Linked DNA regions of Homo sapiens: region 2 is linked to region 1. Evidence: fine-mapped expression QTL. Tissue or cell type: whole blood. Region 1 holds a variant in brackets; the other region holds the start of a gene. All regions are shown on one strand. Distances are between the middles of the regions.

Evidence for each region. PIP is the estimated chance that this variant, and not a neighbour inherited with it, causes the effect.
Region 2: it holds the start of NRBF2, and the variant in region 1 is fine-mapped to the expression of NRBF2 in whole blood (INTERVAL, PIP above 0.99).

What each region holds. Positions count from the first base shown.
Region 1 is chr10:63,319,138-63,327,412 of GRCh38, forward strand. All of the region lies in intron 2 of JMJD1C (jumonji domain containing 1C), which reads right to left. Among named protein-coding and RNA genes, the nearest start is that of MIR1296, 50 kb to the right of the region's middle. The variant CT/C (reference allele first, on the strand shown) is at 4,902.
Region 2 is chr10:63,129,062-63,137,225 of GRCh38, forward strand. NRBF2 (nuclear receptor binding factor 2) reads left to right here and starts at 4,267. Exons shown (of 4, transcript NM_030759.5): 1 at 4,267-4,439. The coding sequence starts at 4,410. RefSeq lists silencers at 4,084-4,333, 4,544-4,813.

The DNA of each region.
Region 1 (8,275 bases):
TCCCAGCTACTCGGGAGGCTGAGGCAGGAGAATGGCGTGAACCCCGGAGGCGGAGCTTGCAGTGTGCTGAGACTGCGCCACTGCACTCCAGCCTGGGCGACAGAGCGAGACTCCATCTAAAAAAAAAAAAAAAAAAAAAAAGCTAATACATTTTCTGCTTACATTCAAGAGTTACTGCTGAAAAAGTGTGATGCCAATCTAATTCTTCTTCATTTGTTTGTGACTTTTTTTTTTCCCTCATCTCTGCAAGTCTTTAGCATTTTCTTTATCTCTGGCAGTCTTATATTTTAACTTTAACGTATGTTGTGTTTCTTTCTTCTCTCTTGACTCTGAACTCCTTTTAATCTGAAATTTCTCACCTCTCTCTTTTCTCTCTCACTTTAATTCTAGAAAACTATCCCTTTTATCCCTTTAAGTATTTATTCTCCACTTAAAAAAAATTATCTCCCTTCTTAGATTCCTATCTTCTGGATGTCAATACCTTTATTTCTGTATTTGATAGCTGTCAATTTTTCTTTTATATTTGCTATTTCCTTGTCCTTTTATCCCCGTGAAATATTCTCTTTAATCTTCCAATTAACAATTTTGTTCTTCAAATAGATCAATTCTGTTATTCATCTTTTTGTTTGTTTGCTTGTTTTCTCCACGACAGAGTCTCGCTCTGTTGCCCAGGCTGGAATGCAGTGGTGCTATCTTGGCTCACTGCAACCTCCACCTCCAGGTTCAAGCAATTCTCCTGCCTCAGCCTCCTGGGTAGCTGGGATTACAGGCACATGCCACCACACCCAGCTAATTTTTTTGTAGTTTTAGTAGAGACAGGGTTTCACCATGTTGGCCAGGCTGGTTTCAAACTCCTGACCTCAGGTGATCCACCCGCCTCAGCCTCCCAAAGCGCTTGGATTACAGGCATTAGCCACCATGCCTGACTCAACTAATTGTTATATTTTTAGTAGAGATGGTGTTTCACCATGTTGGCCAGGCTGGTCTTGAACTCCTGGCTTCAAGTGATTCGCCTACCTCAGCTTTCCAAAGTGCTGGGATTACAGGAGTGAACCACCATGCCCAGCATATCTTACATTTTGTATTATGTTTTTGATATTGAGTAATTTTTTCTTTTAGATTTTATTTCATATTATCTTCCTCTAATATTTTTAATACATTTATTAGGATAATTTTATATTCATCATTTGTCTAATCTAGTATTTCTACTACTAATGGCATCTGTAATCCAGTATATTATTTTTCTTTCCTTTGAATGTTTTATTTGGTCTGTGTGCTCATTTTCTTCTAGGAAAATACATTTAAGCAATGTATATAGACGATGTCAGCCCACAATCACTGTCAGCCCCATTGAGCTCAAGACATACAGGTGGAAAATACCTAAGGTGGAATATTCCAGGCAGCAGAAAACTACAATCTCTCATCTTTTCTCAAAACAATTCCTTGGGAAAGTAGCTTCACTATTTTTTCACATGTTAAAGCATCTAAATGGAGACTCTTCTTCGACTATTGTGATAACATGAAATATATATTTGTTTTTTGTCTCCATTTCCTGACATACAGCTTCTAAAATCCTTGTAGATACAGGCACTAGGAGAATCTTTTGTTCTAATATTTGTCCTTTGACTCCTGGTTCCTGACACCGAGCTCCTAAATCCCTAGGAATTTCCTAGGTGACAGAAGACTCTTTTGTTCTAATGAGGCAATCTTGGTGGGCTTCTAGATAGCCCCAGGATGGTGCTTGTTACCAAGGGAACCAACCATGTGTTTAGAGAGTTGGAAAGTTCATAGCCCCACCCCAGACCTCCAGGGAGAGGAGAGGGGCTGAATTGAGTTGATCAACAATGGCCAATTATATAATCAATGATGCCTATGTAATGAAGTCTCCATAAAACCCCCTAAAAATAGAGTTTGAATGAGGTTCCAGACTGGTGTACAAGAACACATCCACGTGCCAGGTGGGTGGCACACACAAACTCCACAGGGATGAAAGTTCCTGTTCTCTGGACCCTTCCAGATCCCATCCCATGTATCTTCATCTGGCTATTCATTTGTATCCTTTAAAATATTCTTTGTAATAAATCGGTAAACATAATAAGTAAAGTGTTTCTCTGACCTTTGTGAATTGCTCTAGCAAACTAATTGAACATGAGAAGGAGCTGGTCTATAGCTGATCAGTGAATTTTATAGCTGCTCAGTCAGAAGTATAGGTGACAACCTACTACTTGCGATTGTCATCTGAAGTGGGAGGCAGTCTTGTGAGATTGAGTCCTCAATCAGTGGGATCTGACGCTAGCTGTAGGTAGACAGCGTGAAAAAATAATTCAGTTGGAGGATATCCAGCTCATGTCTGCTGGAGATCTGCTAGGTGTGTAAGAAAATACCCCAACACATCTGGTGTCAGAAGTGTTGTGTTGAGTCGACAGTGGAAAAAACAATTTGGTTTGGTTTTTCCTGCATCTCTTACCAACTATAGCGTATTAGCACTGAGAACTGTCTGGGTAAGAGGTAGGGAAGCAAAAGTTCATTTTTTAAATCCACTCAGAAGGAAAGGGCCTCTGCACTATCCTGAATTGACTCCTCAAAATATCAAAGGTCTGATACTTTACAAGTGTACGCGAGTTAGGCACCTTTGCTTCAAAGGCGTGAAGAGCTTCAATAGTTCCTTTCCTATTTTTTCTTCTGATAGCCAAGAGGATGCCCTCTCTCTTGACCTGGGACAAAGCTTCTCTATTCCACACACCAGTTCAAAACAGCCTTTCTTCCACCAACCTAGGGGATTTCTCACCATTTGCTCAGAACATTTAGTTTTCCCTTCTAACTGCTGAAGCTGACCTTGGGTGAGGAAGCCAAAAGTCACACTTCTTGAATGTCTTTTAAGGAATCTAAACCAGTTCATTCATTGTAATGATGAAATATCTTCTCATCTGAGTATATTAAGAGGATTTTCCCCCAAAGCTTTCAAAACAGTTCCTTGTATTTTCCTGGCTATTCTTTTTTTCCTACATGTTTATTCTCTCTCATGTTGGGAAAGCTCTTTTCAAATGTTGCACATGCCTTGGTTATCAATTTACATAAAAGAGAAAAGAATATTATTAAAATGAGTGGATGTCAGTTTACTGAGGATCTCACCTAAGGACTCTAAATTTTCAGAATTTTTTTCCTCTGGAAAATTCAGATTTCTACAAAGACAAAATCCCCCTCTAAACTCTTAGTTAAAAGGTATATGCCAACCTGCAGTATATTATGAGCGCAAGAGATGGAAAGTGACTTAGGTGGAAGGGACTCAGTACGATGATTTTAAAGCTGCTAAATTGTAAAATACAAAATGCAAGAAATTAAGATAGAATAGGGTTTAACTTTTTACACTTATTTGAATTGTTAAAAAATTTTCTGGCCAGGCACGGTGGCTCACACCTGTACTCCCAGCACTTTGGGAGGCCGAAGAGGGAGAATCACAAGGTCTGGAGTTCAAGACCAGCCTGACCAACATGGTGAAACCCCGTCTCTACTAAAAATACAAAAATTAGTGGCGCGCTCCTGTAGTCCCAGCTACTAGGGAGGCTGAGGCAGGAGAACTGCTTGAACCTGGAAGGCAGAGGTTGCAGTGAGCCAAGATCGCACCACTGGACTCCAGCCTGGGCAACAGAGTGAGATTCCATCTCAAAAAAAAAAAAAAAAAAAAACTTTTTTTTTTTTCCTAAGTTTGTCAAGGCACAGTTGAGGAAAGAACAGAATCTATATCAAATGTTAATATTAATGTAATTAATATATATTGATGTATATTAACAATTGTTTACGTATCTAGTCATAAATACAGAGGCAGAGCTGGGAAAAGTATTTAATATATATAAAAATTTAACATATACATACATAGATCTATATATGAAAATTAGATAATGTTGAACAAAAAGTAGAGAAGAGAGAAAAGGAAAGAACTGCCGCCTTGGGCAAGACCAAAGCAGCACTGGGTAAGAGTATGCGAGACAGTAAAGTCAACAAAGCTGTAATGACAGCTATGATGGACAGGTAGTGCTAAAGCTGAAACACAAGGAAAAGCCTGTTGGCCACAACAAATTAATTAAGCCTAGAAACAACAGTGGTGCCGGGTACAGTGGCTCACACTTGTAATCCTAACACTTCTGGGAGGCCAAGGCAGACAGATCACTTGAGGTCAGGAGTTTGAGTCCATCCTGGCCAACATGGTGAAATCCCACCTCTACTAAAAATACAAAAACTAGGCTTGGTGGCACGCACCTGGAATCCCAGCAACTCGGGAGGGTGAGGCAGAAGAATCACTTGAACCCAGGAGGCTGAGGTTGCAGTGAGCCAAGATCGCGCCACTGTACTCCACCCTGGGTGACAGAGCAAGACTGTTTCAAAAAAAGAAAGGGGGGAAAGAAACAGCACTGGTATTTTCTGAAGCACAAGTTATAAAACAATGTTATCCATTCAAAAACCAGAAGTCATACTGATAAGAGCACAATAAGGCCAGGTACATAAAACTAAAAAAATTCAAGGCATACTTAGATGTGATATAAAATGAGATGGCTAGTACAATGGCCTGCGGGGGCCATCTTGTGCATTCTCTCAATCTTCAAATGTCTTTGTATTAGAGTTCTCCACAAAAACAGGACCAATAGAGTGTGAGCATATTTGTGTGTGTTTCTCTGTGTGTTTGCATATGTGTGTGTGTATACATATATATATATAGGCTCATTATCTCATATGATTATGAAAGCCAAAATCCCATGATCTGCAGCCCACAAGCTGGAGAAACAGGAAAGCCAGTGGTGTGTCTTGGTTCAAGTCTGAAAAATGAAGAACCAGGAGCACCCACATCTGAAAGCAGGAGACAAGGATGTTCCAGCTCAGAAAGAGCCAATTCATCCTTCGTCTGC[CT/C]TTTTTTTTTTTTTTTTCTATGTGGGCCCCCAAAGGATGGACAATATCTGCCCAAATGGATAAGGGTGGTCCTTCCCTACTCAGTCTACTAGCTCAAATGCTAATCTCTTCGGAAACACCCTCACAGACACAGTCAGAAATAATATCTTACCAGGATCTGGGTATCCTGTGGCCCAGTCATGCTTACAACATAAAATGAACCATCACAGTCCTCAACCAACACTATCTCGTATATCCTTAAAACAGAGAAACCAAGGTTCAGAAAAGTTACCTACTGTCACAAAAGTAAGTAAACAGCTAAACCAAAAATCAAACTCGTGTCTATCTAAATCAAGAGATCAAACACAAATGCCAACTAAGATTCTGTGGAGGAGATAATAGTACAAAGTTAGGCCCTTGCTCCAAGAAAGTTCCTGCAGACGGAGATCAGATTTATACACATCAAACAATACAAACCCTGTATTATTCTATATTGACTACAACTTATAAACAAAGAAGCCTAGAGGAAAGAAAGATTCAGAATTAAACAGATTCCTTCATTCAATGAATGCTTCTTAAGAACTTGATATGTGACAAGCACTGGTAACCACAAAGTCAAAGCAGTGTGTTAACAAAACTCCTACCTATAGAGCTCATAATCCTGTGTGAGTGTAGAAATGGCAATAAACAAGTAAACGTGTATGTCAGATGGTGATAAGTGATTTAGAGAAAAATAAGCATTTTCGGGAAGAAAAGAGGTTCCAGGGTGGTGGTTTATACTGGGTAGTCACTGCATGTAAGTCTAATCAGAAAACATTTAATAGAAAAGACAGAACTTGAACTAGGCTTTCAGCTAGATTTTGAGTTAAATTGTAAATTGCTGGAGTCATGAAATCCTTAGCTTGCTTCATACAAACCAAACATACATTTTTACTGTCAGCTGGCTATCTACCTAAAGCCATCATAGGTGGCCTTTATTCTCATAAAATGACAAAGATATATATAGTCTAATTCTTAATATTACAAACTCAGATATCTGATTTTGTAAGCATACTGAGACTAGATGTCCTATTAGGGACAAACTTAGTAATCAAGCTCATAGCTACTGATATATAAACCAGAATGCAAATTTATTACTTTAAAATGATAATTATTAGCTGTTAATTAGTGTAGAAAGCATGGGGATTAACAAATAATACAAACTTTTCCTTAGGAAAGCTAAATCAAAATATTACTTGATAAACACAAATGACGTAAAACAGGGGAATAATAAGCCCAAGAATACTAGAATAGGGTTTCTTCTACCTCAGTGTTTTGGTTTTTTGTTTTGTTTTGTTTTGAGACAAGAGTTTGGCTCTGTCACCCAGGATGGAGTGCTGTGAGGAGATCACAGCTCACTGCAGCCTCAATCTCCGCGCTCAATCAATTTTTATCCAGTTCACCCTCTGGAGTAGCTGAGACCACAGGCACACACCACCCACCCAGCTAATTCCTCCGACAGTGTTTAAATAAGCAATGTCAATTTCTGGCTCTTTGGACCTCTCTTTTCTGTATCTAGAGCCTAAAAAGAACTTTCTTCTTTCCTTCTAAACTCAAAAAAGGAGTAAATACAACTGATTAGATATCTAATTACTAAATTCAATTACATTTTGGTGCCGTCTCTCAAATTCCTTAAGTATGTACTTGACATCCAGTTAACTTATAATATAACTGATAAACAGTTAATTTACCCAAAAATATTTCATTTATTCTGGACACAGTTAAACATAATCCTTCTTAGAATAAACTATAAATCTCAGTGAACTACCTTATTTCCAACTTTTTAGGGATCATATACTTGTTTCCATATCCCTCCAATGTCTTAATGCATATATTCTATGTAGATCAACATACTTATATTTATTCCATTTACATATTAACTGCTAAATCCATCATAGCACAGTTGTTTTTGAATTATAAAAAATTATTTTAAATGACAACAGCAATATAATGAAGACAAAGATGCATATGTGAGCATAATATATTTTAGTACAACTAAGAACATCTTTCACGTAATGAAGTATCCACATAGAGGAACAATGAGCAACATGAATAGGTGACAAATAAGAAATGACATTTGTAATTGACGGGGAAGCGTAACAATTTCTGAGAAGTGTAATAACACAGTGAAAGCCGTGTTTAAAGATGATAAAATGGCCAGACGCGGTGGCTCACGCCTGTAATCCCAGCACTTTGGAAGGCCGAGACAGGCGGATCATTTGAGGTCAAGAGTTCAAGACCAGCCCGACCAACATGGTGAAACCCTGTCTCTACTCAAAATACACTGTACTCCAGCTGGGAGACAGAGCGCAATTCCATCTCAAAAATAAATAAATAAATAAATAAATAAATAAATAAATAAATAAATAAAGATAATAAAATATGGTAACAATTTATTACAATGGCAAGAAATCAGTAATGTTATAAGATACTGCCTATAAAGCCTAACATGAAACACTGAAGGTCCACATCAGACTGGTGGAGGCGGAGAGGTGGACAGACATTGGACACTGACACATTACTTAAAATACCAGGAGCTGGGCCAGGCACAGTGGCTCACGCGTGTAATCCCAGCACTTTGGGAGGCCGAGGCAGGCAGATTACCTGAGGTCAGGAGTTCGAGACCAGCCTGACCAACATGGCGAAACCTGGTCTCTACTAAAAATACAAAATCAGCCTAGCGTGGTGGTGGGTGCCTATAATCTCAGCTAATCGGGATGCTGAGGCAGGAGAATTGCTTGAACCCAGGAAGCAGAGGTTGCAGTGAGCCGAGATCGTGCCATTGCACTCCAGCCTGGGCAACAAGAGTGAAACTCTGTCTCAAAACAAAAAACAAACAAAACCAGGGGCTGGGCATGGTGGCTCATGCCTGTAATCCCAGCAGTTTGGGAGACCGAGACAGGAAGATTGCTTGAGTCCAGGAGATTGAGATTAGCCTAGGCAACACAGTGAGACCCCATCTCTACAAAAAATACAAAAATTAGCCCGGTGTGGTGGCATCCACCTGTAGTCCCAGCTACCGAGGAGGCTGAGGTAGGAGAATCGCTTGAGCCCAGGAGGCTGATGCTACAGTGAGCTGTGAATGCACCACTGTACTCCAGCGTGAGCCACAGACTGAGACCTCGCCTCAAAAAAACTAAAACAAAAAACAGGACAGCCTACAATCTGAAAAGGGGCAAGTGTTATGAGAACACAATAATAATAATATCTGGGGCTTAAAAATACGTTTCTATGTAAACATGCTTCACCTTCATTCCAATACTTTGCTTCATCAATGTAAATAAGCCTACACAACTGTGGTTTTATCTGCTGAAATTCAATTTCTAAAAGGGTGAAACAAATAGAGAAAGTTACT
Region 2 (8,164 bases), 190 kb before region 1:
TGTATGTGCCAGATATTTTGTATTACTCTTTCCAGATCCGGTCTCTACTTCTTACTACCCTGCTCCCTGCCCTTGGAGGCTGATTTTTATGAATTACATCAATGGGCTCCCTTGCCTTCTGGCTTTTGATTGGGTTTGGACAATGGAAGTCAGGGGAAGAGGAAATAAGGTGATTTCCCTGGATCCTCCCTGCAAGGTCACCTCAGGATAGTGTCCTTGATTGAAGGTCAGTGCTTCTTCAAACTATATTCTACATTTTTCTCCTCATTTCAGATTTCCCTCTTATTCATTTCTCTTTCTTTTTTTTTTTTTTTTTTTTTTTTTTGAGACAGAGTCTTGCTCTATCTCCCAGGATGGAGTGCAGTGGTGCGGCCTCAGCTCACTGCAACCTCTGCCTCCCAGGTTCAAGTTATTGTCGTGCCTCAACCTCCAGAGTAGCTGGGACTATAGGCATGTGCCACCATGCCTGGCTAATTTTTGTATTTTGGATAGAGATGAGGTTTCGCCATGTTGGCCAGGCTGGGCTTGAACTCCTGGCCTCAAGTGATCCGCCCACCTCTGCCTCCACCTCCCAAAAGTGCTGAGATTACAGGTGTGAGACACTGTACCCAGCCCCTTCTATTTCTTTCTTTATAGCCTAGGAGTTATTGCTTTTCTCATGTAAATACCTAAACTCTGGCCACACCTTTGTAAAACAGTCCGTTTATTAAACCCTTCTGGGATTATTTTGAGTATGTCATTGATTTGCTTTAGATACAATGCCTCTGGTAGTCTCAATAATGGTCCGAAAGATACCCAGGTCCTAATCTGTGGAAGCTGAGAATGTTACCTCATATGGCAAAGGGACTTTGTAGGTATGATTAAGTTAACCTTGAGATAGGAAGACTATCTTTAACTATTTTGTGGACCAAATGTATTCACAGGGTCCTTACTAGAGGGAGGCAGAAGGATTTTAAGAGGAAATGACATGACAAAAGCAGCAAGAGCTTTGAAGATGCAGTGCTGCTGGCTTTGAAGATGGAAGAAGGGGCTGTGAGTCAAAGGAATGCAAAGAATGTAGCTCCAGAGGCTGGAAAAGAAGGGGGCAAGGCCTTGCTGTATACCTTTGTTTTGGCGCTATGAAATTATTTTGGTCTTGGCCGGGCATGGTGGCTCACGCCTGTAATCACAGCACTTTGGGAGGCCGAGGAGGGTGATTCACGAGGTCAGGAGATCGAGACCATCCTGGCTAACACGGTGAAACCCCGTCTCTACTAAAAATACAAAAAATTAGCCAGGCGAGGTGGCAGGCGCCTGTAGTCCCAGCTATGTGGGAGGCTGAGGCAGGAGAATGGCGTGAACCCCGGGGGTGGAGCCTGCAGTGAGCCAAGATCGAGCCACTGCACTCCAGCCTGGGTGAAAGAGCGAGACTCCGTCTCAAAAAAAAAAAAAAATTATTTTGGTCTTCTAGCCTCCAGAACTGCTAGCCTCCAAATTTCTGTTGTTTTAATCCACTAAATGGGTAGTAACTTCTTACAGCAGTCATAGGAAATTAATACAGTGCCCAAGATAGAACTTTTCATTTTCCATACAAATTAGCTCCTTCCTATTGTTACCAGGGGGTCTTTGTTCTTAGAGCTCCCAAGATGGTGGCAGGCCACTTCCAAGATGGCGGCAAGCCTTTTGTTCTCTGACCTGGGGTTCTTGGCCTCACGGATTCCAAGGAATGGAACCTTGGGCCATGCAGTGAGTGTTATAGCTCTATTAGAAGCCGTGGGTCACAGAAGAGAACCGTGGAACCCAGCAACTAGTGTTCAGCTCGATTAGGACAAACCCTGGGCACTTAGCCTTGCAGGAACAATGGCGAGCCTCTAGCCCGATTGGGAGCAGCAATGGGCGCCTCGCTGGATCAGGAGCACAGTGGACACCCTGATGGATCCAGAGGGGTGGAAGTCAGCGGCGGGTCTGTGATGGCAGCAAACAGCGGTGGTGGACGGTGAGTGAAAGCTCAGCTCAAGCTGTAACAAACATGGACCAGAAGAGTGTGCAGTTGCAAGATTTAATAGAGTGAAAACAGAGCTCCCATACAATGGGAGGGGACCCAAAGGGGGTTGCCACTCCCTGCTCGAATGCCTGGGTTTATATCCTGATCATTGTCCCTCCCCCTGTGCTCTCAGGCGATATATGATTTGACTATTTCTTTACCTTCTGCTTCTAGCCTAATTTGTATTTTAGTGAGCCCTCTTTACTACCTGATTAGTCGGGTGTGAACTGAGTTACAAGCCCTGTGTTTAAATGTGGGTGTGGTCACCTTCCCCAGCTAGGTTTAGGAATTCTTAGTTGGCCTAGGAAATCCAGCTAGTCCTGTCTCTCACTATCTTGTCCACTTGGTTGTTTACTTTTTTATTTTTTTATTTTTAGAGACAGAGTCTCTCTGTGTCACCCAGGCTGGAATGCAGTGGTGTGATTGGTCTCAGCTCACTGCAACCTCTGCCTTCCAGGTTCAAGCAATTCTCCTGCCTCAGTCTCCCCAGTAGCTGGGATTACAGGCACGCGCCACCACACTTGGCTACGTTTTAGTGCTTTTAGTAGAGATGAAGTTTCACCACGTTGGCCAGACCAGTCTCAAACTCCTGGCCTCAAGTGATCTGCTCTCCTTGACCTCCCAAAGAGCTGGGATTACAGGGGTGAGCCAGTGTGCTAGGCCACTTGGTTGTTTAAATACGAGATTTGATTCTTCCATTTTCTGTATGCTTTACTGCCATTCCATCACTAACTCCTCTCAACCTGATGCCCAAAAATATATCTTGAATATATCTACTTCTCTTCCAAGGTTTCCGGCACATGGTAGAAACATGATAACTATGTAATGAGTGGATGCATGACCCAATCTTCCCTACTTCCATTCCAGTCTGAGCGCCCATAATTAGTCAATCAACTAGCTTGTCTTGGTTCTTTTTCCTTAGGCCTTCCACAATCTATTCTTCACATTACAGGGAAATTAATCTTTTCAAAACTGTAAATTAAAGCAGATTATTCTCTAGCTTAATATCCTTTACTTATTTCCCAATGCACTTTGAGTAAAATTCAAATGTTTCATTGTGCACTGCAAGGACACCTATGTTTTGGAAGTTTCCTATCTCTCTGGTATCTTCTTTTGCATCTCTCTGAAATGCTGCAGCTCCCGCCACCCGACCTCCCCGCCTTTAGAGTTGAGGCATAAGACATTTCCTTTGTCGAGAAGGGTCTTTGTTTAACTGGCATTTTAAGGTTTAATCTTAAAGATTACGCCCTTAGCCAGGTGCGGTAGCTCATGCCTATAATCCCATCAGTTTGTGAGGTCCAGGAGGGCGGATCATTGAGCTCACTTGAGCTCAGCAGTTCAAGATCAGCATAGGCAACATGGCGAAACCCCATCTCTACAAAAAATACAAAAATTAACCTGGCCTGAGCACTTGTAGTTCCTAGCTACTTAAGAGACTGAGGTGTGAGGATCGCCTGGGGCAGGGGGCGGGCAGAGGGAGGTTGCAGTGAGTGGAGATTGCGTCAGCAAGACACTTTCTCAAAAAAAATCACGCCCCCCATGAAAGGCTTTCCTTTACCACCCAACTCCACCTTGGTTACTCTATCACAGCTCCCTATGTGTTCCCTTTCCAGCATAAATCACAACTATTTGTCAGTGAATTCCATGACAGAACGAACCTAGCTTTTGTTTGGCACATAATTGTTAAATGAATGCAGTATTATATTTGGCTAGACCAAAATTGTTTCCCTATCAGTTTGTGAGCAACTTGAGGGCAGAGCCCTAAATCATTCGAGTGTGCTGACCTCTAGGGGGGTTAGTCCAGTGCATGGTCTAGAATTGCTCAAATCGGCCTTTTGAAAAAATGAATCATGTACAATGATAAAGGTGTGGACAGGACCACAAGTAACGGTGTAACGATTAGCAGATTTAAGGAAAAGTCAGTCTAAAAGGAAACGTGAGAAGCTAATTGCAGAAGACAGCCATTTCAAGTCTTCAACAGCAAGGCTGTACCTCCTCACGTGACTTCAGTGTAGACTTTAAGAACCTAAACTAACGCTTCTCGCGAGAGGAAAGATTGACCGCTCGCAAGCGTACATCAGCTGGTGCCCCGCCTTCCCTGGGCCCCACCCACTGCCTGTCCTCATTCCCACCTTGAACCAGCCTTTTGCGCGTGTGACGTCATGGCGCCGTGCGTGGCCTCGGCGGTGGCGCAGGGGGCGGGCCCGCGGCGCGGCGCCGGAGGAGGAAGTGGTGAGGTTGTTGCTCCTTCAGCGCCTATCGCTGGCTCTTGGGGCGCAGAGAGGGGCCGCAGTCTCCGCGGCTGCGTCGAGCTCCCTTGCAGTCCCCTCCATGTTCCCCGGCGCCACTACTCCCCTTCCTAAGGCCGCCGCTTACCCCGGGGTCTATGGAAGTAATGGAAGGACCCCTCAACCTGGTGAGTGTCCCACAGAATATAGCGTTCGTCTTGGGTGCCTTTGCCTCAGGAGCCCGGCCCCGTCCCCGGCGCGTCGGCTAACCCTTTAGGCTGGGAGGTTGGTTTGGCAGGAGTGGTCGCAGAGGCTGTGAGGGGCTGCTAGGCAGGCCCTGGCCCAACTGCGGCTCCAGGCTAGCCACTTCAGACTTTGCCCTCCTGGGGGATCCCCGGGAAGTCCTGGCGCCCCCTGTCGCGGGGCCCCGGGCGAGGGGATGCCACCACCTGGGGCTGCCACCTCCTCTCTGGCTGGGGGAAGTCCTCTTAGCGCCACGTAGCCACCTCCCTACAGCCTGGAGAGGCACTGAAGCCGGCCAAGGCAGAAATGGTGTGATACTGGTTTTAAGTTCTAGCAGCAGGGTCTGAGTCTGAGTCGCCCCGCTTTGGAGAGGTGGAGGAGTGAATAGCCTCCTCACCCTCCACTTCCCCCTCCTCACCCTTCACTTCCCCCTCCTCACCCTCCACTTCCCCCTCCTCACCCTCCACTTCCCCCTCATTTCTCACATACATTCACATGCATAAACTGAGTCTACCGTCTTCCAAATATATTAGAGACAGCTGGGAAAAAGACAGCCGTTCCTGTATTTAGCTCAGATTCATCAATTTAGGCATCATGAAAGTGTAATAGGTGTTTGCTGTTCTCAGGAAAATGGCTGATAGCCTGTTTACTTGTGTTTTAAGGCGTTTCAGGTGTTGCAATTAAAAAACAACACAACAGAACCCCACTAACAACGGGAAGCATGAGTTCTTTTCAGACTGGCCATTGCATCTTTTAGTTTTCCAGAGAGGTTACCCATTTTGGATGTAAAAGTCAGATTACTTAAGGTTGCACACAGGAAGAACTTTTGAGTCACAGGTTTGCAATTCATTTGCGATGGTGGAATTGAAAGAAAGCTCTATAGAGGATTCTTTTCTCACATTAGAACTCTGAGTCCTAGAAGAGCAGTAGAGTCAGGTGGTTTAAGACTCTAGGTTTTGAAGCTATGCTGCTTGGATTTGAATTCTAACCTCGTCACTTGATATCTGTGTTACCTTGGGCAAACTACTTGGCTTCACTCGGCTTCAGGTTTTTTGGGAGGATTAAAGGAGTAAATAGGTGTAAAGCACTTAGAACTGTACTAAGTACATAGTACAGTGTAAGAGTTAGCGATTATAACCAGACCATAAGCCCTTAATTTAAAATCTATTTGTAGAATAAAGGTTTGGACTTGAGCTTTAAAAGCCTAAGATTCTCGGACCAAATCACTGGTGCCAGGTTAACTGTTGTGAGGCGCCCCTCCCTTTTAAGTTGGGTCTTGCCCCAGGTGGTAGGTATTTACACTTAAGACGAATTGGACTACATTTGCGAGTTTTTTTTAACCAGGGAACTGGCCAGGCGCCGGGGCTCACGCCTGTAATCCCAGCACTTTGGGAGGCCGAGGCGGGCGAATCACTTGAGCTTAGAAGTTCGAGACCAGCCTGGGCAACATGGCGAAACCCGGTCTCTACAAAAAATACAAAAATAGCCTGGCGTGGTGGCGCCCGCCTGTGGTCCCAGCTACTCGGGAGGCTGAGGTGGCAGGATCGCTTGAGCCCAGGAGGTGGAGGTTGCAGTGGGCCGAGATTGTGCCACTGCACTCCAACCTGGGCGACAGAGCGAGACTCTGACTCAAATAACCAGGGAACTGTCTTGCACTTTTCTTGTTTTTAAGGCGACATATAGTTGGCAATGAAATACAGTGGATGGCTCAATACTGAAACTTCACAGGAGTATTACTAGAAATAATCAGCTGTTTACGAAGTGCTTCAGAGTTCAGGTGTCCTTGCCAAATGAGCATTGGTTCAGTTCTAGTTAGCTTCACATTATTTGGCTGCAGAATAACCCCCGCCAACTGCCCCACGAATGTGTGATGTTTTAAAAGGAGACTAGAACTGGGTGACAGTTGCAGATAGAACTGCAGAATCACTACCAGTTCAGGAAAAATTAGTTAAATGGTGGCAATACCATTTAAATTCTCCTCCATAAAACGGAGCGAGTTTCGACAGAGTCTTTTTAAGCAGGCTAGCGTAACTCCGTATTTCAGCCATAAAATTTATGTAGGCAAGTATCAGAAATTTGGCATCTTGAATTCTTTTTTTTTTTTTTTTTTGAGATGGAGTCTCTCTCTGTCACCAGACTAGAGTGCAGTGGCGCGATCTCAGCTCACTGCAACCTCCGACTCCCTGGTTTAAGCGATTCTTCTGCCTCAGCCTTCTGAGTAGCTGGGATTTCAGGCACGCGCCGCCACGCCCAGCTAATTTTTGTATTTTTAGTAGAGACGGGGTTTCACCATGTTGGCCAGGATGGTCTCGATCTCCTGACCTCGTGATCCCCCCGCCTGGCCTCCCAAAGTGCTGGGATTACAGGCGTGAGCCAGCGTGCCCGGCGGACACCTTGAATTCTTAAACCATTTGAGTCTTGAAAGATCTAATTTCCAGCATAGTTGTTTATTGGAAGGTAACAGTAGAACAGACGTTGACGGTTACTTGAATGAGTACCAATTACAGGCCTCTGGCACTCAGAATTGTCACTCACAGTTTTATAAGATGAGGTTTTTGAAAATTCAGACTTTTTTTTTTTTTTTTTTTCTTTTTTGAGACGGAGTCTCGCTTTGTCACCCAGGCTAGAGTGCAGTGGTGCGATCTGGGCTCACTGCAGCCTCCACCTCCCGGGTTCAAGCAGTTCTCTGCCTCAGCCTCCTGAGTAGCTGGGATTACAGGCATGCACCACCCTGCCCGGCTATGAAAATTCTGACATTCTTTTATGTCAGTGAACACCTAACTTAGTATCTAGTTGACTCAAGATGAGAGTTCTCAATGCTATAATTTGAATGTCTTTGAAAATTCCACTAGTATTATACAAGCTTTTTCTTTTTCTATACTCAGAGAGTTACTAATGCAATAAGCTTTGTCAAATGACGTCGTAGTGTAGTCCAAATTCATTGTATAAGGACTTATCACAGTACATGGATTTGTAATCATGTGTCCTCAGAGCATCCTCGGAACTTAGTAAGGTGTGTTTTCCAGTTTTACAGATAAATAAGCCTAAGCTGAGAGAATTAGGTAATTACTTAGGTCAGTAACTTAAATACATTATGAATCACGAGTTATTTTGATATCAAGACCTCTTTCTAGCAATGCTGCCATATTGTACTCATCATGTTCATTTCAGTATGGTTCTCATCTATATTGAACTGTAGATTCTGTGTTAGCATTTATTACCTCTGCTCCAGTATTGATTCTTTTATGTTAGGTTTGGCAGTAAGGGCCTTAGAAATTCCTCACAGTGAATTTTTAAGATCTGGAAGAGACTAGTTTGAAATATTCATTTTAATATGTACCACAGAGGTAATGGATTCTAATTATCTGGTTATTGAAGTTTGTCAAAAGAAAAATTGTACTTCCACTGAAGAAAAAAATAGCTAGTCTTTGCACTCTGAATAACTTTGTTTCATTAGGGTTTTTTGGTCAATTTTTCTTTAAGAGACAGGGTCTTACTCTGTTGCCCACACTCAAGGGATCCTCCTGCCTGAGCCCTCCACAATAGCTGGGACTACAGGTTTGCACCACCATGCCCAGCTAATTTTTTCAAAAACTTTTTGTGGAGATGGGGTCTTGCTGTGTTGCCCAAGCTGGTCTTGAACTCCTGGCCTCAAGCAATCTTCCTGTCT